Regions from separate parts of the Homo sapiens genome. Here region 2 is linked to region 1. Evidence: fine-mapped expression QTL. Tissue or cell type: blood mononuclear cells. Region 1 holds a variant in brackets; the other region holds the start of a gene. All regions are shown on one strand. Distances are from middle to middle.

Region 1 (12,338 bases):
TTTAAACTTCTCAAAGTTTAAGTTCTCCATTAACCTTTCACCTCTATTTCATTCCTTGATAATCTTTGCCTGAACCATCTGTTTTATTCTTTATTTGGTATAATATACTAACCCGTGTCTATCCATCCCTCTGTATATTAAACAAAAGGGGCATGAGTCCACACTGAAACTGTTCGCGCCAATCCAGCACCATGGAGTTCCTTCCCTTCTGCTTTGTGTGGCTTTCCTGATAGTGAGGAGTCTGGTCATCGTTATCTATAGCGGCTTCCACAATTTGTTCAACCCTAGTATAAAGTCGCTTTAGAATTGCTAACCCATACTCTGGTGGGAAACGAATACACCAACTTGCGTACAGTGTTTGTGCACATTCATAATTTTGTATTTAGCCCTAGGAGATACAGTTGAAGCACTGTTTTCCAAAGCTACTGAGCTCCGTTCTTCCCCACCCCTTCCGTGTGTTTAGGCCTGTCATCTGTAATGCAGTTGGACTCAGTTGTCAATGCCTGCATCTCATCTTGGGTTCTCTCTGCATTTTGGGGTGAGATGGAGTGCACAAATCTGTGGGTTTTGGCAAATGCACGGAAAGTTGTGTATCCATCACCACAGTAACCAAAAGAACATTTCCATGACTTAAAAATGTCCTTACAGCTGTCCCTCTGTAGTCACCTCCTTCTCTACCCAATCATAGTAAATACTGATCTGTTTTCCAGAGCTAGAGCATTCCAGAAAGAACGCTTTTCCAGAATGGAATTGTACAATATGTAACCTTTTGGTTCTGCCTTCTTTCACTTAATGAAATGTATTTAAGATTTATATATACAATGGTCTGTGAATCAAGTTCATTTCTCTTCACCGTTAAGTAGCATTTCACTGTGTGGATACACATAGCTTATCCATTCTCCTGCTGAATGACATTTGGGTTGTTTCTGTGTTTGGAGAGTAACAGTGTAATAAATATTCATGTACAGGTTTTTGCGTGAACTTAAGTTTCTATTTCAGTTGGGTAAATCACTAGGAATAGAATTGCTAAGTTACATGGTAAGAGTATGTCTAACTTTATGGGAAATGTCAAACTTTCCCAAAGTGGCTGTACAATTTGGCATTACCTCCAACAATAGGTGAGTGCTCTGGTCACTCTGTGTCCTTGTCAACACTTGTCAGTTTTTTAAAAAAACTTAGCCATTCTCACAGATGTGTGGTGTTATCTCATATGGTTTACATTTTTTTTGTCTAATGACTTAGGTTCAGCATCTTTTCATATGCTATTTACTGTTTATGTATCTTCTTTGGAAAAATGTTTCTAATTGGGTTGTCTTCTTGAGTTTTGAGCGTTCTTTATGTACACTGGATATAACTTCATTATTGTATATATCATTTGCAACTATTTTGTCTTTTCATTTGTCTTATCAGTGCCTTTCAGATAAGATTGGGTACGTTCAGGGTGGTATGGCCATAGTTATCAGTCTCTTTCAAAAAGGAGAAGTTTTAAATTTTGATAAAGTCCAACCTGTCCTTCCTTTCTTTTCTTTTGTTCAGTATGGCTAAAGACTTATTAATTTTATTACCCTTTGATTTAACTTAGTTTCTCTTCAATTCCATTGATATCTGGTCTTTATTATTTCCTTCTTATTGCTTACTTGTGAAACAATTTGTTCTTTTTTCTCTTATTTTTAAGGAGGAAGCTTAGATTACTGAGTCGAGACCATTCTTCTTTTTTCCATATAAACACTCAGTGCTGTAAATTTCCCTTTAAGCAGTGTTTTAGGTATATCCCACATATTTTATGTTCTCTTTTCATTTTGTTCAATTCAATTTTTTTTTTTTTTTTTTTTTTTTTTGAGACGGAGTCCGCTCTGTCGCCCAGGCTGGAGTGCAGTGGTGGGATCTTGGCTCACTGCAAGTTCCACCTCCTGGGTTCACGCAATTCTCCTGCCTCAGCCTCCTGAGTAGCTGGGACTGCAGGTGTGTGCCACTATGCCTGGCTAATTTTTTTTTTTTTTGTATTTTTAGTCGAGACAGAGTTTCACCGTGTTAGCCAGGATGGTCTCGATCTCCTTATCTTGTGATCTGCCCACCTCGGCCCCCTAAAGTGCTGGGATTACAGGCGTGAGCCACTGCGCCCGGCCCAAAATGTTTTTATTTCCCTTGAAACTTCCTCTCTGACCTGTGGATTATTTGTAAGTATGAAGTTATTTAATTTCTGAACATTTGAGGATTTTCTGGATACCTCTGTTACTGATTTCTAGTTTAATCCATTATGGCTAGAGAATAAACAGCTCTGATATTAGATACATAAACATGTAAGACTGTTCTATGTTCCTAAGGAATCAACTCCTTTATCTGTTACACAGTCTCTCTTTCTAACTCTACTAACATTCCTTGTTCTGAAGTTTACTTTGTGTAATAATACAGCTTCCCGCTTTCTTCTGTGTTAGCATGGTATATCTTTTCTACTCTTTTGCTTTTAACCTATGTTTATTTTCACAATGGGTTCTTGTAGATAGTATGTAGCTGGATCTTTTCATCCAATTTGACGATTTCAGTCTTGTAAATTAGTGTACGGAGATTATTAATATTGAATATGAATAACTGGATTGAATATGATTCATATATTCAGTACATTAGTGATTGCTGATGTTGCTGGATTAAAATATGCCAGCCACTAGCTGTTTTCTGTTTGTTCCATTTGCTATTTAAGTGTATTTTTAGAGATGAAGTATGGCTACGTTGCCCAGGCTGGACTCGAACTCCTGGGCTCAAGTGATCCTCTCACCTCAGTGTTCTTAGTAGCTGGCACATAACACCACTCCCGGCTTCAGTCCATTTGGTTTCTGACCACCATTTTGGGTTAAGTGTCTTAAATTCCATTTTACCTCCTCTATTAACTTATTATTTATACTTAAAAAATATTTTCGAATTGTTTTCCTAAAGTTTCCAATATATATTCTTGAGTACTCAGTGTCTACCTCCAAATAATAAAATACTGTTTCAAATACAGTATAAGGAACTAATAGTATATTCCCAATAACTTCCTCCCACCCTCTGTAGTATTGTTGTCACAAAGATTACTTTTATATATGCTATAAATCCAGTTTGCTGGTTTTGCTTTAGTCCATTATCTTTATGATTAATTTTAAAAATTAAAAAATAGAATTTATTTTATCTTCATTTATTCCCTTTCCAGTGCTTTTCACTTCTTTGTGTAGATCCAAGTTTTTGGTCTGGTATCATACTCTTTCTAAGAAATTCCTTTAGCATTTCTTGTGGAGTAAGTGTGCTGGAAATAAATTCCCATGATTTTTGAGAAAATCTTTATATCACCTTTATTTTCTTACATATCGTTTTCACTAGGTATAGAATTCTGTGCTGACAGTTTTTCTGGTTGAGGATGCTACTCTATTGTCTTTTTAGTGTGCATGGTTTCTGAAGAAATGTCTGTTACAATTCTTGTCTTTGTTTCTCTGTATGTAATCTGTCTTTTTTCTCTGCTTTCAAGATTTTCTTTTTTCCATCAGTTTGAATATGATATGCCCAAGTGTTTTGTTTTGTTTTTGTTCTGTATTTAACTTACTTGATGGTCTTTGGCTCAGTAGAAAATTCCTGACTGTTATTTCTTCAACTATTTCTTCTGAGATTCCAATTACACCTATGTTGGACAGTTTGAGGCTGTCTCCAAATTCTTAGAATGCTCTATTCTGTTTGCTTCATTCTTCTTTCTCTGTTTCAGCTTGAATAATGATTCTTTTCCAGGCTGTGTTGAGTGCTATCAAATGCGTTCCTCATCTCTGGCATTGATGTTACAGATGTTACATTTCCATTTGAGGGTTTCTTTCATGCCCATCTCTACGCTGTGATTACCCACCCGGTCCTGCATGGTGCCCACTTTGTCCACTAGCCTTTAATACATCATTCATAATTATTTTACTTTCCCTGTCAGATAGTTCCAACTTCTGTGTCCTCTCTGAGTCTTGTTCTGATGATGGTTTTGTCTCTTGGGAGGTTTCTTTTTTCCCTTCTTGCCCATCATATGCTACATAATTTCTTGTTGAGAACTGTGTAACTTGTGTAGGACACAGAGACTGGGCATGCCTTTCCTTCTTTTAGACCTCTGAATTAATCTATTTTTTAGGCCAGGTTTGAGTATTGTAATGGTTCTACAGCATGTACAACAGCTTTCAAATTCCTCTAGTTATACTTCTTGCCTCAGCTGGTGGCTGGTTTGGTGGGTAATTTTTTTGTTTTTTCTCAGTATCTGCTCCACTTTCAGCTTTTGGTCTTTCCTTGGCATTGTGCCTTCGAGAGGGTCTGTCTTTTGCAAGTTACTTGACTCAGGCTGTCGGTGCACTGGAATCCAGTGCTGCATCTTGCTCCTCCCTGCAAATATGTTTCTCTCCTTAGATTTTAGGCCTGCTGGCTGCTCTGTAACCTCAGCACTCTGAAGTCAAGAAAGGTCTTGAACTTGCCTTTCATCTAGATTTTTCTGTTGTTAAGTCTGGGGTGATGCTGTTTCTGGCTCTCTACATCCCTGAGCAGAAACTGGAAGCAATCTCACTCTGAACCTGTTCAACTTAAGGGTCCTCTTCTCTCACTCAGACATTCCATCACCCTAGACATGGACACTTACTTTTCCCAGATTTCCTCAATGATGTCTCTTGTAGTTGGCCTCTGTACATGTAGCTGAAGGGGCTTTACATATCCCTGTTATTCCTTGCCCTCCCATATTAACTCATACTAACTTTTAAAATCTCTCTTTAAAGCATTATTTGCTCTTAGGTTGTAAGAAAGATAAATATAAATTTTAAACTTAAGTTCCTATAACACATGTAAACAATGATCATGCTTAACTAAGCATTTTCCTTTTCATTGGTATACATCTCTAGTCAATTTCTAACATTTAAATTATAACATTTTTAAGTTGCATCCTCATGTCTCTCAAGCAAAGAGTATAAAGGTTTCTGTAGCTCTTTAAACTTGTAGGTCTCCAAATGTTAATAAAATCAAGATCTCCCAGAAACATTGGTTCTCCAAAGCTGTGCCAAATGGCAAGAGATCTTCCTTCTTCTCCAAAGTCACATCCTGTGTGTGCTATTAGAGCCAAATGTAAGAATCTATCTAAGGAGTGGGAACATTTCAGTTTCTAAAGTAGCTGCATAAGCACACGGAGTTACCTGCAGCTTCAATTTTTTTTTTTTTTTTTTTTTTTTTGAGACGGAGTCTTGCTCTGTTGCCCAGGCTGGAGTGCAGTGGCGCGATCTCGGCTCACTGCAAGCTCCACCTCCCGGATTCACGCCATTCTCCTGCCTCAGCCTCCCAGGTAGCTGGGACTAGAGGCGCCCACCACCACGCCCGGCTAATTTTTGTATTTTTAGTAGAGACGGGGTTTCACCATGTTAGCCAGGATGGTCTCGATCTCCTGACCTCGTGATCTGCCCACCTCGGGCTCCCAAAGTGCTGGGATTACAGGCATGAGCCACTGCACCCGGCCACCTGCAGCTTCAATTTTATAAAAAGTGAATGATGGAATATTGCCATCTACTTAAAGATATAGCCTTCAAAAAAAAATAGTACCGATGGCATTACAAGATCCATGGTCGATGATAAGAAACTGAATAATGCAGCAAGTGAGAAGGGAAGCTATACTGAGATGAGGACAGAGGTCAGTGTGTGAAACTGTGATACTACCATGAGATCCTAGGCCCAGGCAGCTGTGAGCAGGACTAGCAGGACCAGACAATGAGAAAAACATTTAGACACTTTAGCTTTAAAAACCTCCTAAAAGAATTCTCTCTGCTAGGACATGGAATAATAATCTATATAGTAAAAATTGTATTTAAGATAAATTCTTTTGCAGAGGAGAAATGTAGGGGTTTCAAGGGACAATAAAAAAAGCAGCTGTGATTCCTATCTTGTGCCCTTACATGTAACAGCAGAAGAAACCAATGGAATGCTCAACTTCCTATCGAGGTGAAAAGAAAAAAAATGAAAGAACAGGACTTGCTCTGTCTGGGGAGTCCAATGGGCTCTACTATGGTTTGAATGTGTGTGTCCCCCATGACTCCTATGTTGCAACTTAAAACTCAATGTGACAGTGAACAGCCACGGCCTTTAGGAAGTGACAAAGTCATGAGGACTCTGTTCTCATGAATGGGATTTGCAACCTTTCAAAAGGGCTAGAAGGAACTAGCTAAGTCTCTTTCTGCCTTTCTGTCCCTTGTGCCATGTGAGGACACAGCGTTTGTCCCCTTCAAGGAAGTGATGTTCTCTGAGAAGCACAGACCTGGCCCTCGCTAGACACTGAACCTGCCGGTGCCCTGATCTTGGACTTCCTCGCCTCCAAAACTGTAAGAAATAGGTTTCTGTTCTTTATCCATTATCTAGTCACAGGTATTTTGTTACAGCAGTACAAACTAAGAAAGTTCCCAGTGATGTCACCTCTGGGAGCAGCAGTTTGACTTTCTGTGGTGTAAATCATGTCAAGTCCTGAAGCATATAGCTGTTATCATTATTGACCTCAAAAATTTCACCCCACTGTGTAAAACGTCTACATTTGACAATGATAGAGGTTAATAACATTTAGTGACCAAGATCCATCACAACTTCCAAGTTATATTAACATTCAGGAAGAAAAATGAAGGGAAAGTTAGCTAAATTTAAATGTCAATCTAATTTGATTTCTATATTATTGAACATCCCCTATGCCATACAATGCAACTAGGTTAACTTTTCAATATGATGCCAGTTTTACTACTGATCCAGCTCTTTTTGAGTGCTCCTTACCTTGTATTTGAGAAAAGTAAATACATGTCAAGAAAAGAGCCAAAGTTTTTCACTGAATTTAGGTCACAAAGATTTTCTGTTTGAAATGACAGAAAGGGATTTTCATTTTAATATACTTTATTATTTAAAATGCATTCTAAAATCCACTCTTTTTGTTTAAAGAGATGCCCATGTAGGGAGGGAAATCTATAATTCGTTGGTATTTACAGAGAAGTTAATTCTTCAGTAAAAGTGAACTGCAACTGTTACAAATACATTCTAATACCATTTCCTTTCAGAACAGTATTTGTTGCTGCCATTATTATTACTACTATTGCTATTACTATTGCTATCTAGGCAAATCAAGAAATATGAAAAGCAGCAACACAGGGTCATGACTTTATGCTCACGAATCACATACATGACGTCTATGCAGAGAGTGACAGCCCATGGAAGGAGATCCTTGGGGCTGCCGGCTGACTCACCACCACCATTCGCTGACTCACCACCACCATTCGGTTCTGTGCGTGTCCCCGTCACTGGCTTGAATGATGATTTGGTCATTGACTCAATGTAGAGCTGCTGACCCAGATTTTTAATTTTGTTCACACTGGCATAGACCTGCTGCAAGGTCATCTTAGGGAAAGGAATGATAAAATATGTTTCAAAAATTATAAAAATGTCCACTAAAAGATACATAAACAAAATACACTTAGCTTCTGTTTCTTTGAAGATATAATGACTGAAGCACAGTAATCACTTTAATCCAGTTTCCTGCACCATGCCACAGTATACTGGTACCAACAAATTCTAAATAAATCTGTTCACAATATGCTAATTTTTAGAACGCATACAATTAATTCAAATATCACTTTCCAAAGGTGATATTTTCTTTTTACAGACTTTTTTTTCCAAACCAAAATGGATGAAAATATCTGTTATCAGTTGAGGTCTTCAAGTCAGGAATATATACTAAGATGTCACCACATTCAGAACCGAGGTAGTACAGAAAACACGATGCCTGTATAAGAATGTGACATAAGCCCATGCACCTGCTCCGCCTTCGTCTCCTCCACACGGTGCCC[A/G]CTGGCCTCACTGGAGGAGGCGATGCTGACAAGCTGCTCCTGCGACCCGCTGCTCCCCAGGCTCCCGTAGCCGCTGGACACGCTCACGTGAACTGGCTGGAAGGACAAAGAGGAACAAGTCCAGAATTGCTGGCTGTTCAAATGCAGCCACCGCAGAGCTCATCTAGAATCATGTAAAAATTAAGATGACAATTCCTGAAATACTAAATTAGGTGTGTGCAGGTTGGTACTTTTAATGCTGATGCTGACACGAAAGGCACTCCTCTGTCATTTCGGCAATTTTCAAGAGCAAGGTCTTATGTTCTAGTCTAGGTAGGTATTTCCAGGACAACATATTGTTAAAAAGCCATAGTATAATTAATTTTTTAAAACAGGAAAATAAACTCTAGTTCTTTATGCCCAGTTTAGAATACAGAGAACAAACTAACTATATATTATACTTTTTCCAAGAACGTGGCAGGTATTTCATGCACCCTAGAGATTTTATGGGAGACATTCTGAAAACCACCGAGGACAGTTACTCTACACGACACCATTAGTTCTATTTACCACTTATTCATTGAATCTCTTGTAGAAAACACCTTTAGTTATTTCAACACATACATTTTCCCACTTTTACCTTACAATAGTTAAGAGAAACTGAGACCTACCATCCCTCTCCTCCCATCTTTAAAACTGAAATTATTTTAAAAATCCTGAAGCCAAAACCCAAAGGCTGAGCACGCTGGTGCCTTTGGAATGTAATAATTCTCTCAGTCACGTGGTTTGCTGTCTTACAATGGGTTCTTACAAAAATATTCTGTGTAACACAGAATAAGGAACAAAGAATAAAATTTAATTTAAAAACGAAAAGAGAAAGACAAAAATTTCTGGAATGTAGAGGGCAAAGATTTGTCTCCCTTTACAGTTTATTTTTGTGAAGTGAATTTACTGAGCATTAAAACAAAACACAATTCAGGGAACTTTGCATTTTTAACAATCTCACCTTACCTGTAAGAGAAGTTTGTAAATTTGTTCTTGTAATTCTGTTATGTCTTTGTCATTATCGTTCATCTTTTTAATTTTGGTAGCAAAAACATCCTCATTTAGTGGGCTCCTAGAAAATGCCCAGTGAGAGACTGAGTCAAACAATTTAAATGAAGTCGAAAGTGATTTTTAATAGACTATTCCAAGAATAGATCTATGCTTTTACAAAACAATTCTTTGACTCCAAAGAAAAAATATGAGGCTAGAATTCTATTCATGAAGGTACAGAAAATAATAAGAAACAAATGAGACATTAACAGGCCCCTTAAGTTTCTCTAAAGCACTCATCTTTCTGTAATGGTTTCAGTGCTATATATGTACAAATCTGAAATCAGGGACAAGTAACCTCCTTAGCTACTAAAATATCTTCAGCAAATAACTGGTTTCAAAATTTGACAGTAACTGAGTAACTGTAACTTACTCTAAGAATTTTAAAGACCCCAAGTTTTCCAAACAACATTTAATGTTTATTGCACCTAACACTTAAGCTATCTAATTAAGACAGTTCTGCAACCCACCCTAGTGGTGAAAATGTAGCTATTACAATACCTTCGGTCTTATTTATACTCAAATTTTAGAGCATCTTCAATCTATGACCTGAATACAGTGAATGGCACACATGCCAACAGAGAGGATTACAAAGAAGGGAAGGAACTGATGTTTACTTGGGACCTTCTATGTGACAGGCACTGTACTATACTAGTTTTTTTTTTTTTTTTTTTTTTTTTTTGAGACAGAGTCTTGCTCTGTCACCCAGGCTGGAGTGCAGTAGCATAATCTTGGTTCACTGCAATCTTTGCCACCCAGGTTCAGGCGATCCTCCTGCCTCAGCCTCCCGAGTAGCTGGGATTACAGGTGCACGCCACCACGCCTGGCTAATTTTTGTATTTTTAGTAGAGACGGGGTTTCGCCATGTTGGCCAGGCTGGTCTTGAACTCCTGACCTCAAATGATCCACCCGCTTCGGCCTCCCAAAGTGCTGGCATTACAGGAGTGTGCCACTGCACCCAGCCTGTACTAGTTTTTATAACATAGAAGAATACCTGACATTTTGAAAATCCTTATTATTCCAAGTGCTTTACACGTATTTTCTCCTTCACCTGATTAAATACCTTTTCCAGGTGGCCTGGCAGGTAAGGGGGAAGCAGGTGTTCACGAAGGGACCAGAGTCTGGGCTCCAGAGTCCACCCTGTGTGCCACCACACTGTACTGCCTGTGGGTACCTTGGTAAAGCAAGTCCCATTCGTGAGGCATACTGAATCAGCTGCATCAGCTCACGGAGTTCTCACAACAACCCAGAAAGTAGGAATTATCCCCGATACACAAAGTCAGGGGATGAGGTACTCTGAGGAACTGGCCCAAGTTCACATAACCGAGAAGCAGCAGTTAGGATTTGAATCCGCCTACGTCTGACCCCCAAGCCTGGGCTGTCCTTTTTCCATTATGCCAGCCTGCCGTTTCTCAACTGATACATGCAGCTCAGTTACCTAAAAACTGAAACAGTTTCCCAAAGGCAGAAATTATCAAGACAATCATAGGATGCTGACAGTATCGTAAAAGCAGTCAGGAATATCTCCACGTCTAGGGACTATTCACTCACCCTGCACATTTCCATCACAGTGGAACAGCTGCACCAATCGCCTTTCTCTACTTTAGCATCTAGACTGTATCTAGATCAATATCTATCTGCATGGCGTCAGGTACACCATATGTCTGTGGCAAGCAGTACCTGAATATATAACCTTATTTCACAACTTGACACACTATACGTTTTATGTAACTGTCTCTCCCTATATCCCACTGCCAGGTAAGTGCCACGGGGTGAGGTATTTTGTCTACTTTGTTCACTCCTGGATCTTCAGTACCTAGAACAGTGTCTGGTCCATAGCAGGCACCCACTACATATTTGCTAAAGGAACAAATACATGGTTGATTGATCTGGGAATAAAAGTACACCTGGTTCCTAATATAAACACATTGTGAGCTTGAAAACCTTTCAGAGGTATTTGGAATTTGTTTTTTGAGTGAAATGGAAATAGAACAGATTGCTTTATGAGATTTACATATTCCTAGTTGTGAAAATTTCTACAAAACTAAATTGTGTATGTATGTGTGTGTGTGTATGTAATATATATATATATATATATATATTTTTTTTTTTTTTTTTTAAGAGACAGGGTCTTGCTCTGCTGCCCAGCCTGGAGTGCAGTGGTGCAATTCTGGCTCACTACTGCCTTGAACACCTGGACTCAAGCAACCCTCTTGCCTCAGCCTCCTAAGTAGCTGGGACTACAGGCACGTACCACCATGCCCAACTAATTTTTGTTTTTAAATTTTTTGTAGAGAAGGGGTCTCACTATCTTGCCCAGGCCAGTCTTGAACTCCTGGCCTCAAGTGATCCTCCTGCCTCAGCCTCCCAAAGTGCTGGGATTATAAGCGTAAGACACTAAAATGTATTTTAAGTCAGTAACTATGTAATGCAGAACTGATTAATCTGCAGGCAATAAGGAGACAGCCTTCATGAAACAGCAACAAAAATGCCATGAAGTATTTATTGCTTTGCTGTGTATGTGAAGTGAAGTAGGAGTAAGAGAGAAAACTTGGCTGCAGTCTCCACTTTCACTCCTCCCGAAGTGATCCCTGGGAAGGCTACTCTAGTTTACTGAGTATGGATTTTACCTGTAAAATGAGAGCTGAGGACACCTGACCTGCTTGCCTGCAGTGCTGCTGGGAAGGACTGAGAGAGATACAGGCAGGGTCCCTTGCTAAACAGTCTTGCAGCCCCCTTCCCATTTCAACTGTCACACTTACCAAACTCTAGTTATATATGACAGTGCCATTTTTATTTACTGTCTCTCCCATTACAGTGTGGGTTTCCTGATGGTAAAGAGAATGTTTTGATTACCATTACATTCTCAAGGCCCAGCACACTGTCTTACACAGAGCTTTATACTTTATAAATATAATGAATAATTAATATTTTATGAGCAAGATTAATACCTACTAGACCTTAAATCCTTTCCCTCACATAATCTTTGTTGTTAAGATGTAAATACCAGTGTAATTTTTTAAAATACTGAAAACATTCTGAATATTCATTATATGTTGCATAATTTCACATATATTTCATCAAAGAACTGAAAAGAGAGCTTCAGAAATCCAGGCCGTATCTTTAACCCTGACTGGGGCTGGGGAACACAGACCATCAACGAGCCCCAGATGGAAGCCTCATGAAGGCATCTTACTGGCTGCAGTTTCCTACGTTCATGCCAAGCAACCATCGGATTTCATGTTCATTTCCCAATAGGTTTCCGTACTTGGGGGGTATGGGGTGGGGAGAAGGGACAAAGTCCTTTCTGAGCAATACCAATGGTAATTACTTGGCAGCTGTATTTCTTAATAATCAAATTCGTTTTCTAGCACAAATCAGTCTCATGAGTTAGGGCGGCCAGGAGCCCATTTCTTCCATTAA
Region 2 (12,338 bases), 25 kb after region 1:
AATTCAGAAATGTCTAAATTTGCCTTAGGAGATGAGGGGACTGAAATTTCTGCCCAGTGTTTGTTGACTATATGTATTTCCTCTGATTAGAGCTTCCTGAATATCTTTTGGGCATTTGTTCACTGAAACAAGAAGTCTTCAGTTATAGGAACCATGGAAAACTGTGAGATGTTCAAAAAATATACACTGAAGGTAGCATAAACAGTGAAAATCCAAAACAACCAAAATATTGAATAAGCAGCCCAGGTCTTGATACTTCTAAGAGACGATCACAGAAGAGTCAGAAAGCATTAATAAAGCACTGAAGATTGGTATAATCTTCTACAGAAAACGGCCTCTACTGTGAGGTCAGTTTGCTTATACCATTTATTCATCACACCAGACACATGAACTCCAACTGCACTCACTAGAAGTCCTGGACCACTGAAAGCTAGACTACGTGATCTAAGACAGCAGACGTGCACCCACAATGCATTTCCATTCCTAGGCTGTAAATATGTGATGCTTGTTTCTAAAAGCGTACTCTGAAGAAGTAATGGTCAGATCCTTCTAAGAGGTTTGTACAAGACATGTTAAATAGAAACATATTCTAATACAGGACCAGAGGTTGACAACAGCTGAGTGGATTGCTTCCTAAGTCCTCTTGATGTTCTATGTGCTCAAAGTAAGGAATCGAAGGGGGTAACGCAGGCATAGCCTATAAAGGGGGTGGCATTAACCAACTGCTCTCAGTATCAATCCTTGAGATTCATAAGGCAAAAGTACAATATAAAGAGTAAACTAGAATTATATCGTGCCTTATGGCATAAGTGAATTTTGAGATCCAAAAGAATTATTTCAGGGCATATTAAGATTTTACATAAAAGGTGATATGGTTTGGCTGTGTCCCCACCCAAATCTCATCTTGAATTGTAGTTCCCATAATCCCCACATGTCAAGGGAGGGACCTGGTGGGAGGTAACTGAATCATGGGGGTGGTTGCCGTCATCCCGTTCTCGTGATAGTGAGTTCTCATGAGAGCTCATGGTTTTATAAGAGGCTTTTCCCCCTTTTGCTTGGCGCTTCTCCTTGCTGTTGCCACGTGAAGGACATGTCCCCGTCTGCCATGATTGTTAAGTTTCCTGAGGCCTCCCCAGCCATGCTGAACTGAGTCAATTAAAACTCTTTCCTTTAGAAATTACCCAGTCTTGGGTATGTCTTTATTAGCAGCATGAGAATGGACTAATACAGTAAACTTGTACTGCAAAGAGTGGGGTGCTGCCATAGATACCCAAAAATGTGGAAGTGACTTTGGAACTGGGTAACAGGCAGACACTGGAACAGTTTGGAGGGCTTAGAAGAAGACAAGAAAATGTGGGAAAGTCTGGAACTTCCTAGAGACTTGTTGAATGGCTTTGACCAAAATGCTGATAGTGATATGGACAATGAAGTGCAGGCTGAGGTGGTCTCAGAGAGAGATGAGGAACTTGTTGGGACTGGAGTAAAGGACACTTCTGCTATGCAAAGAGACTGGCAACTTTTGCTCCTGGCCTAGAGATCTGTGGAACTTTGAACTTGAGAGAGATGATTTAGGTATCTGACGGAAGAAATTTCTAAACAGCAAAGCATTAAAGAGGAAGCAGAGCATAACAACTTGGAAAATTTGTAGCCTGAAGATGCAATGGAAAAGAAAAACCCATTTTCTGGGGAGAAATTCAAGCCTGCTACAGAAATTTGCAGAAGTAACAAGAAGCCAAATGTTAATCACCAAGACAATGGGGAAAATGTCTTCAGGGCATGTCAGAGACTTCACAGCAACCCCTCCCATCACAGGCTGAGGCCTACGAGAGAAAAAATGGTTTTCTGGGCCTGTCCAGGCCCCCACTGCTCTGTGCAGCCTTGGGACATGATGCCCTCCATTCCAGCTGCTTCACCTCCAGCCATGGCTAAAAGGGACCAAGGTACAGCTCAGGCCATAGCTTCAGAGGGTGCAAGCCCTATTCCTTGGCAGCTTCCATATGGTGTTGGTCCTGCAGGTGTGCAGAAGACAAGAACTGAGGTTTGGAAACCTCTGCCTAGATTTCAGAGGATGTACGGAAATGCCTGGATGTCCAGGCAGAAGTTTGCTACAGGGGCGGAGCCCTCATAGAGAACCTCTGCTAAGAGAGATGTGTAAGGGAAATTTGGGTTCGGAGCCCACACAGTCTTCACTGGGGCACTGCCTAGTGGAGCTGTGAGAAGAGGGCCACCATCCTCCAGACCTAAGAATGGTAGATCCACCAAAAGCTTGCACTGTGAGCCCAGAAAAGCCACAGACACTCAATGCCAGCCCATGAAACCAGCCATAAGGGAGGCTGTACCCTGCAAAGCCACAAGGGCAGAGCTGCCCAAGGCTGTAGGAGCCCACCTCTTGCACCAGCATGACCTGGATGTGAGACATGGAGTCAAAGGAGATTATTTTGGAGCTTTAATATTTAATTATTGCTTCAGTGGATTTCAGACTTGCAAGGGGCCTGTAGCCCCTTTGTTTTGGCCAATTTCTCCCATTTGAAATGGGTGTATTTACCCAATGCTTGTACGTCTATTGTACCTAGGAGATAACTAACTTGCTTTGGATTTTACAGGCTCATAGGTGAAAGGGACTTGCTTTGTCACATATGAGACTTTGGACTTGGACTTTTGGTCTAATGCTGGAATGAGCTAAGACTTTGGGGGACTGTTGGAAAAGCATGATTGCATTTTGAAATGTGAGGACGTGAGATTTGGGAGGGCTTAAGAGCAGAATGATATGGTTTGGCTGTATCCCCACCCAAATCTCATCTTGAATTATAGTTCCCATAATCCCCATGTGTGGTGGGAGGAACCCGGAGGGAGGTAATTGAATCATGGGGGCAGTTTCCCCCATGCTGTTCTCATGATAGTAAGTTCTCAAGAGATCTGATGGCTTTATAAAGGGCTTCCTCCTTCACTCGGCTCCCATTCTTCTCCTTCCTGCCATCATGTGTAGAAAGACATGTTTGCTTCCCCTTCTGCCATGATTGTAAGTTTCCTGAGGCCTCCCCAGTCATGTGGAACTGTGAGTCAATTAAACTTCTTTCCTTTATTAATTACCCAGTCTCAGATAGTTCTTTATAGCAGCGTAAGAATGGACTAATACAGAAGGGAAATATCGCAGTAATCAGTAATCAGCAAAAATGAAAAGGCTGAAAAGCCACAGGCAGTGCTGAAGGAAAAATACCTGGGGAAAAAATGGGAAAGACCTGGCAGACAATATTGTGTATGTCCTGTTCACAGCTGTATCTGTATCCGGACTAGTTCTTGACCCACGTGATTATTAAATAAATGTTTACGGAATGAACAGCTAACAAAAGCAGAGAAACAAATACAGACAAAGGTTGAAAATGTGTATTTAGGAAAGGGGATGAGAAATAAAATCAGTATTTTTGAAAGATGGGAAAAGAGATGAGCTAGAAGCAAGCAGGGATGACATGCATGTTTTCTAGAGCTTATGTAAAAATATTTTTAAAAGATGGGGCAATCTATAATTGGAAGAAGAAACACGCAAAGCTACCCTTCATTAAATTAACTACTGGGTAAAAAATTAGAAATAGTAGATAGAATTTCAGATATAAAGATGAAAAAGTTATGGAGATCTGTTTCACAACAATGTAAACATCCTTCACAGCAATGGAGTGAATGCCTAAAAATGATTAAGATGGTGTATTAGGTCCGTTTGCATGCTGCTGATAAAGACAGACCCAAGATTGGGCAATTTACAAAAGAAAGAGGTTTAACGGACTTACAGTTCCACGTGGCTGAGGAAGCCTCACAATCACGGCAGAAGGCAAGGAGGGGCAAGTTACATCTTACATGGACGGCAGCAGGCAAAGAGAGAGAGCTTGTGCAGAGAAACTCCCATTTTTAAAGCAATCAGATCTCATGAGACTTATCCACTATCACGAGAACAGCATGGGAAAGACGCCCTCATGATGCAATTATCTCCCACTGGGTTCCTCCCACGACACATGGGAATTGTGGGAGTTACAATTCAACATGAGATTTGGGTGGGGACACAGCCAAACTATATCAGATAGTAAACTGTATGTGTTTTTTACTACAATGAATTTTTTTTTTAATTAGAGAGAAGGGCTTGGAATCAAAGAGAACGCTGATATATATATATATATATTTTAAAGCTCTTTAAGAGACACTTCACAAAGAATATAAAATAATGAAGGATGACTAAAAAGAAATAAATTAAGATCACACAGGACTGAATGTCACAAAGAAAACTGCAATAGGCATCTTTGAATTATGAAAGAAAAGCATTCCAGAAGGAAAACAAAGTAATAAGACTCATAAGTTTCAGGGGCAAGAAAAACTGTAAGAGAGCTAATGATCTGAATTTTTTTTTTTTTTTTTCCCCAGAAACAGTTTCACGCTTGTCGCCCAGGCTGGAGTGCAATGGTGTGATCTTGGCTCACTGCAACCTCTGTCTCCCGGGTTCAAGTGCTTCTCGTGCCTCAACCTCCTGAGTAGCTGGGATTACAGGCATGCACTACCATGCCTGACTAATTTTTGTACTTTTAGTACAGATGGGGTTTTACCATGTTGGCCAGGCTGGTCTGGAACTCCTGACCTCAGGTGATCCACCTGCCTCAACCTCCCAAAGTGCTGGGATTACAGGCGTGAGCCACCTTGCCCAGCCTAATGATCCAAATTTTATCTCCAAAGTAAAATTTCTCATACAAGGAAATCATGAAGGAGGAAAAACATTTAATTTTAACTTAAAGGAAACAGAGCCTTCATAGCAACTAAACCACTATACAATACGCTGGTAATGAAATAATATTTATGACATATCATCTGTGAAACAGATGTGACAAAATGGAAACAAACGTATTGAGTATGTTATCAGAAGCTTTTAAAATGCTGTTTTCATCACGTGACTTTCTATAACAGGAATAAGAAAAACCAGATAGTGTGCATGTTCTAAATAATATGTTAATTTCTGTACTATTCCTGTAAGAATGAAACTGATCTTGATGAGGAAAGATAGACATCTGAACATTGGTCCTGTTACCTCTTTGGGTCCAGTTGTTCCAGAAAGGAAGCTGAGCTCTGGCAGTGTGCGCGTAGAATACCCTCATGTCTTGAGGTGCAAGCAGGTCAACAAAGTGAGAAGACGCCAGGACATCTTTCTTACGATTCAGGATCAAAGCAGCCTGTTCAGAAATGTGCACTAACCTTCCAGACAGAAATGAAAATACTGCCACAAAGGTATCCTATGAAAAACATTTAAAATAAATGCAAATATTGAGATACTCACTAGCAATATTCCCTGAAAGGTAAATTTCTTCTGGATCTCTAACATGACCAGTATCTTAAAATACACAGGCACAACCTACAAATGCAACAAAACTCCTCAAATAATTTTCTCCAACATGCTTCTTAAATCTTCTCCTAAGACCTGCACTTCACCTACTGAAGGTTCAATTTCTATGCCAAAAAATATACTAGCTTATTCTATGCAGACTAAAATACGTATGGCACATAACTTCTCTGCAAACTGTGCCATACACCTGGGTGGACGGTGTTCTCGTCATCAACGCAGATTCTATGCTTTAAGACACACTGAAGATTCACCTTCTTCAAGAAGCTGTCCTTGACAAACCTCATTACATAAGCATCACTGCTCTAATTTTTTCCATTACACATAAATGAAACTTATTTATAATCAGCAGTTTGTGTTTGCTAGCATTGGCATACTTTCCTCTCTAGCTTTATTTTAAATATCTTAAAAGACAAATATTTTCTTAAGCTATTTTTAAAAATCTCCATAGCACCTCCTACAGTACTATGTACACACCAGTCCATAAAATAAGCACTGTTATAATACTAGGGATTGCGCACGTTCCACTATTACAAAATCTTTAAGTAACAATTATGTTACTTAAAATAAGTAATCTCCACCGTATCAACCAAACATGAAGATTACTCTGTCAAACAAGAAGAGAGATTAAAAAAGATATACTAAAGGTCTCTTCCAAAATTTTAGGAAAAATGACAGCATCTCAACTCACCTGTTCTATAACATCCAGTTGTTACAACTTGAAGTAGTAGGTATTGGAACTAAGAATGATATAAATAGAAATTAACAATTCGGAGATTAGAATAAGGTGCAGGAAATTACTCTGCAGTGTAATTTTTGTTTTCTCTTAATTCAAGAGAGCTTGGGAATGCTAAGGAGCTAGAAGCACCTCATAACCAAAGTCACTGAGCTGCACAGCACACAGAACGGGCTGCTTCTGCTTTTAGATGTTTTCTCTGGCAAGGGCGGAGAAGCTACACCATGCCTCTTTAGCAGTTCCTCCTTTGCTTCTCTCAAATTGTGGTTGCTGAAACGTTGTTATCCTTCTTAAAAGCCTACATCTAGAGCAGGCCCTTAGGAAAAGTCACCCAGGTTGATATGGCAAAATGCATGAATTCTTACTGTGTTTTTGGAAGTGTGTTCTGAAGCGATAGTGGCCAGCTCCTCAAGACTGTACATGCTCACATCTGCCTGAGGTGCTCCATTCTGACTGAGAATCTGGAAAAACTCACTGTTTGCTAAGAAACACAGGGAGATAAACAGGTAGTCCAGTGACAACAGTATCTTTAGGAAACCATTTCATCACTATCAAGCTGGATTATTTTTTTCGGATGAGAACACCTCAGTGCATTTTTCTCAAAAACAGATCATTTTCTGCTTTTACCTAAAATACTGATAGTTGTGCAAACTTAAGATTTGATTTTATGAATTCTGCATGTTCTGGATCACAGGAAGCAAGATACATTTAAGGTACTAACTAAAAATTTCAGATGCATACACAATTTTTTTGCGGGGGGAGCAGAAACAGTACTCTGTCATTCAGGAACATATCATATATGAAGCACTGAGGTTTGTGCTAAAGAGAATATGGCTTTAATGAAATCCCTGGAAATGTCAGAGAGAAAAAGTGTTTACAATGGTTCATTTTTAGTTTGGTAAATTCCTGATATATCATTACTGCATTTTTATCATTATTATTTTTTAGAGACAGAGTCTCGCTCTGTCACCCAGGCGGGAGTGCAGTGGCGTGATCTCGGCTCACTGCAAGCTCCGCCTCCCGGGTTCACGCCGTTCTCCTGTCTCAGCCTCCCGAATAGCTGGACTACAGGCGCCCGCCACCACACCCGGCTAATTTTTTGTATTTTTAGTAGAGACGGGGTTTCACCGTATTAGCCAGGATGGTCTCGATCTCCTGACCTCGTGATCTGCCCGCCTCGGCCTCCCAAAGTGCTGGGATTACAGGCGTGAGGCACCGCGCCCAGCCTCATTACTGCATTTTGAAAGTATGTGTACGGCATGTAAAGGTAACTATTTCGTGGAATGCATTTTTTTCCCATAACTTCCATAGAAGACAATATTTCTTTAAAAGGTCAGCCTTCAAAATGTGCTTATGCTAAACTCTACTCTCTTGCAACACATGAGCAAAACATTGCATAGGTATTATACACTATTATACAGATAAAGTTTTCCTGGTCTTTCACATGTGAACAATTAAGACACGAATGGAATCGGTGTAGATTTGCTCATCTTCCACAAAGCACCAGAAAAAGCTCAAATTATTTGTCTGACTGAGACCCCACTGACCACTCCTCTGGCTGCTTGTATGAGTCCTGGTGCATTCGTAGGATGAAATTTCTCTCCGGCTTGTTTACCTTGAACGCTGTGGACACAGCGGAGAGCATAGTTGAGGGCATCTAGAGTGCTTGGTTTATTGCGTCTCTCCGAGGGGAAGTATTTTTTCATTTCTTGGACAACCATGATAAGTTCTTCAGAAACTCTGTTTCGATCTTGCTGTTCACTGGAAGATAAAAAAAAATTACAACTTCATCCTCTGAAGACAACAGCATCTTGCGGCTTAGGGAACACAAACTGCAAGCCAGGTAAGTTTCTAAGTGCTCTACCGGCATCAGTCCACAGGGTGGTGACCCCTCTTCCTCTAGGTGGGGAACTCGAGGCAAAGCAACTGGTGAATGACAAACATTCTCCACTTACTTTCCCTTAATCCACTTGAGCCCCAACTCAGCTAACTTTTGTAACCACTTTTCCCTCCTGATACTCTTCGGTAATTTTCTTCAGTGTCACGGATCACTTCATCCTACATTGCCCGAGTCTCCCCTTTACACTTTCCCCTGGGCTTGAAAACAAAAGAATAAAAAGATTTAGGTCCCCCTTTCCCTGCTCCAGGGAAGGACAACGAACGCATGGGGCCCTCGGCCTGAAGCCAGCGCGTCACCTGTGGCTGCTGTCCGCCAATTTCCTCTGCAGATGGAACTCGGGGCTCCACCGCTCCCCCGATTCTTCGCCCAGGGCCTCGTCCTTAGCCCCCCGTCTCCCGGGGCCAGGAGCTTCCCCGCGGGGCATCTCGAGGTCTCCGCGGGGCTCCACGTCGTGCTGGGACGGCCCGCAGCCTGCTTCTCGCTCACTTTGCAGTCAGTGACAGACACCGGTTTCTCACTCCGGTCCCCGCCATGGCGTTAGTGAGAACAGGCGGCCACCACGAGCCAGGGGGTCACGCTCATCTCCGAGGAGCTTTTCCCTCCAACATTTTCAAAACCCGGAGCTCGCTCGACTTTCAGGACTCCGGCCTAGGGGGAGGAGACAAGGGTGACAAGGGACAAATGGAACAGACAGTCCGACGCCAGCGGCCCGGCTGGCTGGGGCGCCCCGACCGCGCGGTCCTCACCCCTGCCCCAACTTTCCCGCGCGCCGAGGGATGGGGCCCGGGGAGGCGGGTGGCTCGGAAGCGCCACGCTCCGGGGGCCCCCAGTACCGAGGGCAGGGCTCGCGGGGCTCCTCTGCCGCGCGCGAGTGCCCAGAACTCCCGCCCGGCCGCCCAGAACTCCCGCCCGGCCGCGCACTCACCTGCTGCCCCCGCCCTTGGCCCCGCGCACAGCCGCTCGCCCCCGGGGCCGCCCTCGCGCAGTCTCGAGGCTCGCCGCGTGCCGGTCAGCAGCCGGCGCCGCGCCCCCTGCCGCCGCGTGACCGGTCCCGCCCCCGGGCCGTGCGATTGGTCGTCGGGGCCGACTCCGCAGGCCTCCATTGGCCCTGGGGCGGGGCGCGAGCCGGTGCGCCCGGGTTATATAAGCCAGGGCGAGGGGGCGGGGCCCCCGGGGCGCGTTACATAACGCGCGGGCTCGGGCGGAGGCCGGCGCTCGGCCAATCCCAGCAGGCCGGCGGGCGGGCAGGGGACGGGGTGGCCCTCAGCGGCCTCAGGCCTGTGCCGCGCGACTGGAGTGTCCGGCCCCCTGGCACGGCGCCGGGGCGGAGCCGCTGAAGCCAGCGCAGAAATGATAGGGCCAGGAAGCTGCCAGCCACGTGGGGGCGGGACCCGGGCTCTGTGGGGCGGGGCGGGTCCGGCCCAACCTCCACGTGAGAGGCGGGCGGGGAAGGAGAGGGGAGTGAGAGGCGGGGGCAGAGAGGGGCGAGAGGCGGAGTCGGGGGGCTTGAGTCGGGGTCAGGGGGAGGCTGGAAATGGGGACGGATGGGGGCGAGAGGCGGGGACGGGGGGGCGGATGGGAGCGGGGGTGCCGAGAGACGTGGGGAGCGAGAGGCAGGGGCGGGGGGGCGACGGTGTCGAGGGCGGGGGCATTAGAGGGAGGGAGAGGCGGGGACTGGGGGCGAGCAGGGGCGGCTCAGGCCAGCGCTCTGGGGTCGAGTCCTGGAGTTTGTAGGTGGCTCCCGGCTGCCCGAGCGGGTGTGGGGAGGAGCCCAGGGTGGGGCGGGCTGCCGGCAGCGGTCCTCATCGTGCTTTGGCCGTCTTTCTGGGTTCCCACGGTTTTCACCGCCCGTGACCTACCGAGCCCACCCCAACCGCCCCCATCCTCCGCTAACTCTTTCGGTGAGTGGGGTGGACTTGGAGGAACCGGGCCATAAAGCAGCCCTGGTAAAAAGCCCACCCGATTTTTAGAAACAGATTTTTTATTTTTTGAGACAGGGTTTTGCTCTGTTGTCCAGGCTGGATGGAGTGCAGTGGCGCGATTTTGGCTCACTGCAACCTCCGTCTTCTGGGCTCAAGCCAGTTTCCTGCTTCAGCCTCCCGAGTAGCTGGAACTACAGGTGCAGCCACCACACCTGGCTAATTTTTGTGTTTTTGGTAAAGATGGTCTGTGTTAGCCAGGCTGTTCTCAAACTCCTAAGCCCCAGTGATCTGCTGGCCTCGGTCTCCCAAAATGTTGGGATTACTGGCGTGAGCCACTGCACCGGCCCAGAAACAGAATTTTGACGGTGGAACTTAAAACACTTCCCTGCACTTCCTAAAATTAGATTCATTTGGCAACTGGAGGAAGACAAACGTAAAAGACACTCTGTTTCAGAAAAGAAGTTGTAGAGCCCTTTAAAAAAAATGTCTGAAAGCTCAGTTTAGTATCTCAACATGTTAGAAATGAAAGGTACAGTGCAGAGTGCCGCCCCTCTTCGCTGCCTGGTACAGAAAAAATATTCAGTATTTGTTGGATGGATGAAATTGTATGTAAAGGAAGAGGGGAAAAGTGAGGTGAGTGTTCATGTTAGGTATTGAATAAACCACCTTATATCTTCCAAGCGATACTCTAGGTTGGCTTGCTCTCCTCCGAAGCTGGGTTTTGTCAAACTGCATTCGTTCAGCAAGCATTTATTGCGTGCAGATCTGGGTAGGGACGCTTGGAATCCCAGCGGATAGAACAGTGGCCCAAAGTCCCTGCCACCCAGGGAGTTGACGTTTTATTGAGAAAGCCATACAAACAACCCCATAAACAAGTTCATAAAGCCTAAAGCGATGTGTAGAAAACAAACTACTGGAAGGAAGAGTAACTGGGAGAAAGGTGGAGTGGGGAGGCCAGAGCCTGCTTAGTCAGATCAGCAGGGCAGGCCTCTGGGAAGGCGGATTTCAACCTGAGATGAGAGGCGCCTGCCGCGAGTGGGGAAGGCGGATTTCAACCTGAGATGAGAGGCGCCTGCCGCGGGTGAGGAAGTAGACCCGGCAGAGCTGAAAGTACCTGCAGAAGACCTTTGGAAAGAAGTCAGTTTGCTGATGAGAAACCGAAACAAACTTTATCAGGTCCATTTCTCCCTCAGGGCTTCCTTGCCTGTTTTCATTCATAGCTAACTCTGGCCTTCAAGCCACACCCTGATGTTGAAAGTCTCATGGGCACAAGTCTCTCCGATGTCAACAGCTATACTTTGGTGGAGTACCTTGCTTGGAGAAGAGAGAGCTGGAGAGTCGTGTGACATGAAGTCAGAAAACTAGAAAGGACCAGATCATCGTGGGACCTGTAATTCGGGAAAGGGACTTGGATTTTCCTATTGTAAACATAAGCAAAAGTCCTCTTCCACCCGTATTATATTGTTTCCTAGGGGTTCTACGATAAGAATGGAAATACATTCATGAGGAAAAAAGGATCTACAGGAACAGAGCCATGTGTCTGGGGATGTCCCTCACCTATCCACTCATCTATCCCAGGGTCCATGCCAGCAGCCATCTAGTCTACCACAGACGGGGTCGGCTCTGCACATCACTTTAGAAAGACCATCTATTTAGGGAACTCCAAAGCCACATCCTGAATTTTGGTAATTGTGTAAAAGCCAGTTTCCTCCTCATCGCCTATACTAAAAAGCACTTTTCACAAGGGGAGCGGTTTTCTTCTGTTCACTGGGGTATGCGGAAATGCTGGGTACCAAAAGGGTAGAGTACCTAGAGAGGGGCTGGTGAGAAAAGGGGGAGACAGTTTCGGGGCTTCTAAGGGACAGGTATGGGGAGCAGCAAGGAATGGCATTTTTAGGACTCGGACCAGGTGCAGCTATTCCTCTACAAGGAGCACAGGTGCCACAATCATGTTTATAAACACTTTATTTAGGTGATTACAGTGGGTAAGTTCCCAGCTAAGTGCACAGATAGAAGCGAGGTATTTCTGGGTTAATGCAGGAGCCAGTGGGTTACATGGGTCTGGGCACTGTGGCCAAGGGGCGAGTACCAAGGTTTCTGAGTCAGACCCGGCCAGAGACCCTGCGCTGAAGGTGGACTAATGTCCTAACACTGCCAGCTGCTTTCTCCTCACAGCTGGCCACACCGCAAGGCATCTCTTCAACAGTAAATCATTTCAGCGATGTTAAGGGAACAGACGTTAAAGAAATGGAAGCTGTGTCCTGGTGCGCCTCAGCTGTTGCTGCTTTATAAGTCATAATAGCATGTGAACAAGAGTTTTAGAATATTCCAGTAACAATGAGCCACAGAGCGATAAAGTCTGTGTCTTTCTCCCTCAGTGCCTCCTTGCCTGTTTTCTTTCATACCTGA

What was found. PIP is the estimated chance that this variant, and not a neighbour inherited with it, causes the effect.
Region 2: it holds the start of PER3, and the variant in region 1 is fine-mapped to the expression of PER3 in blood mononuclear cells (TOPMed, PIP above 0.99). The same link has a PIP of 0.9 or more in monocytes and whole blood.

What each region holds. Positions count from the first base shown.
Region 1 is chr1:7,805,492-7,817,829 of GRCh38, reverse strand. It overlaps PER3 (period circadian regulator 3), which reads right to left. Exons shown (of 22, transcript NM_001377275.1): 11 at 8,832-8,937; 12 at 7,809-7,937; 13 at 7,242-7,392. LOC124903833 (a long non-coding RNA gene) reads left to right here. Exons shown (of 2, transcript XR_007065450.1): 2 at 6,226-8,693. Among named protein-coding and RNA genes, the nearest start is that of PER3, 27 kb to the right of the region's middle. RefSeq lists a silencer at 6,355-6,555. The variant A/G (reference allele first, on the strand shown) is at 7,842.
Region 2 is chr1:7,780,971-7,793,308 of GRCh38, reverse strand. PER3 (period circadian regulator 3) reads right to left here and starts at 9,018. Exons shown (of 22, transcript NM_001377275.1): 1 at 8,933-9,018; 2 at 8,304-8,655; 3 at 7,723-7,868; 4 at 6,473-6,588; 5 at 5,063-5,264. The coding sequence starts at 8,431. It overlaps VAMP3 (vesicle associated membrane protein 3), which reads right to left. Exons shown (of 5, transcript NM_004781.4): 5 at 11,877-12,338. RefSeq lists a silencer at 8,943-9,552.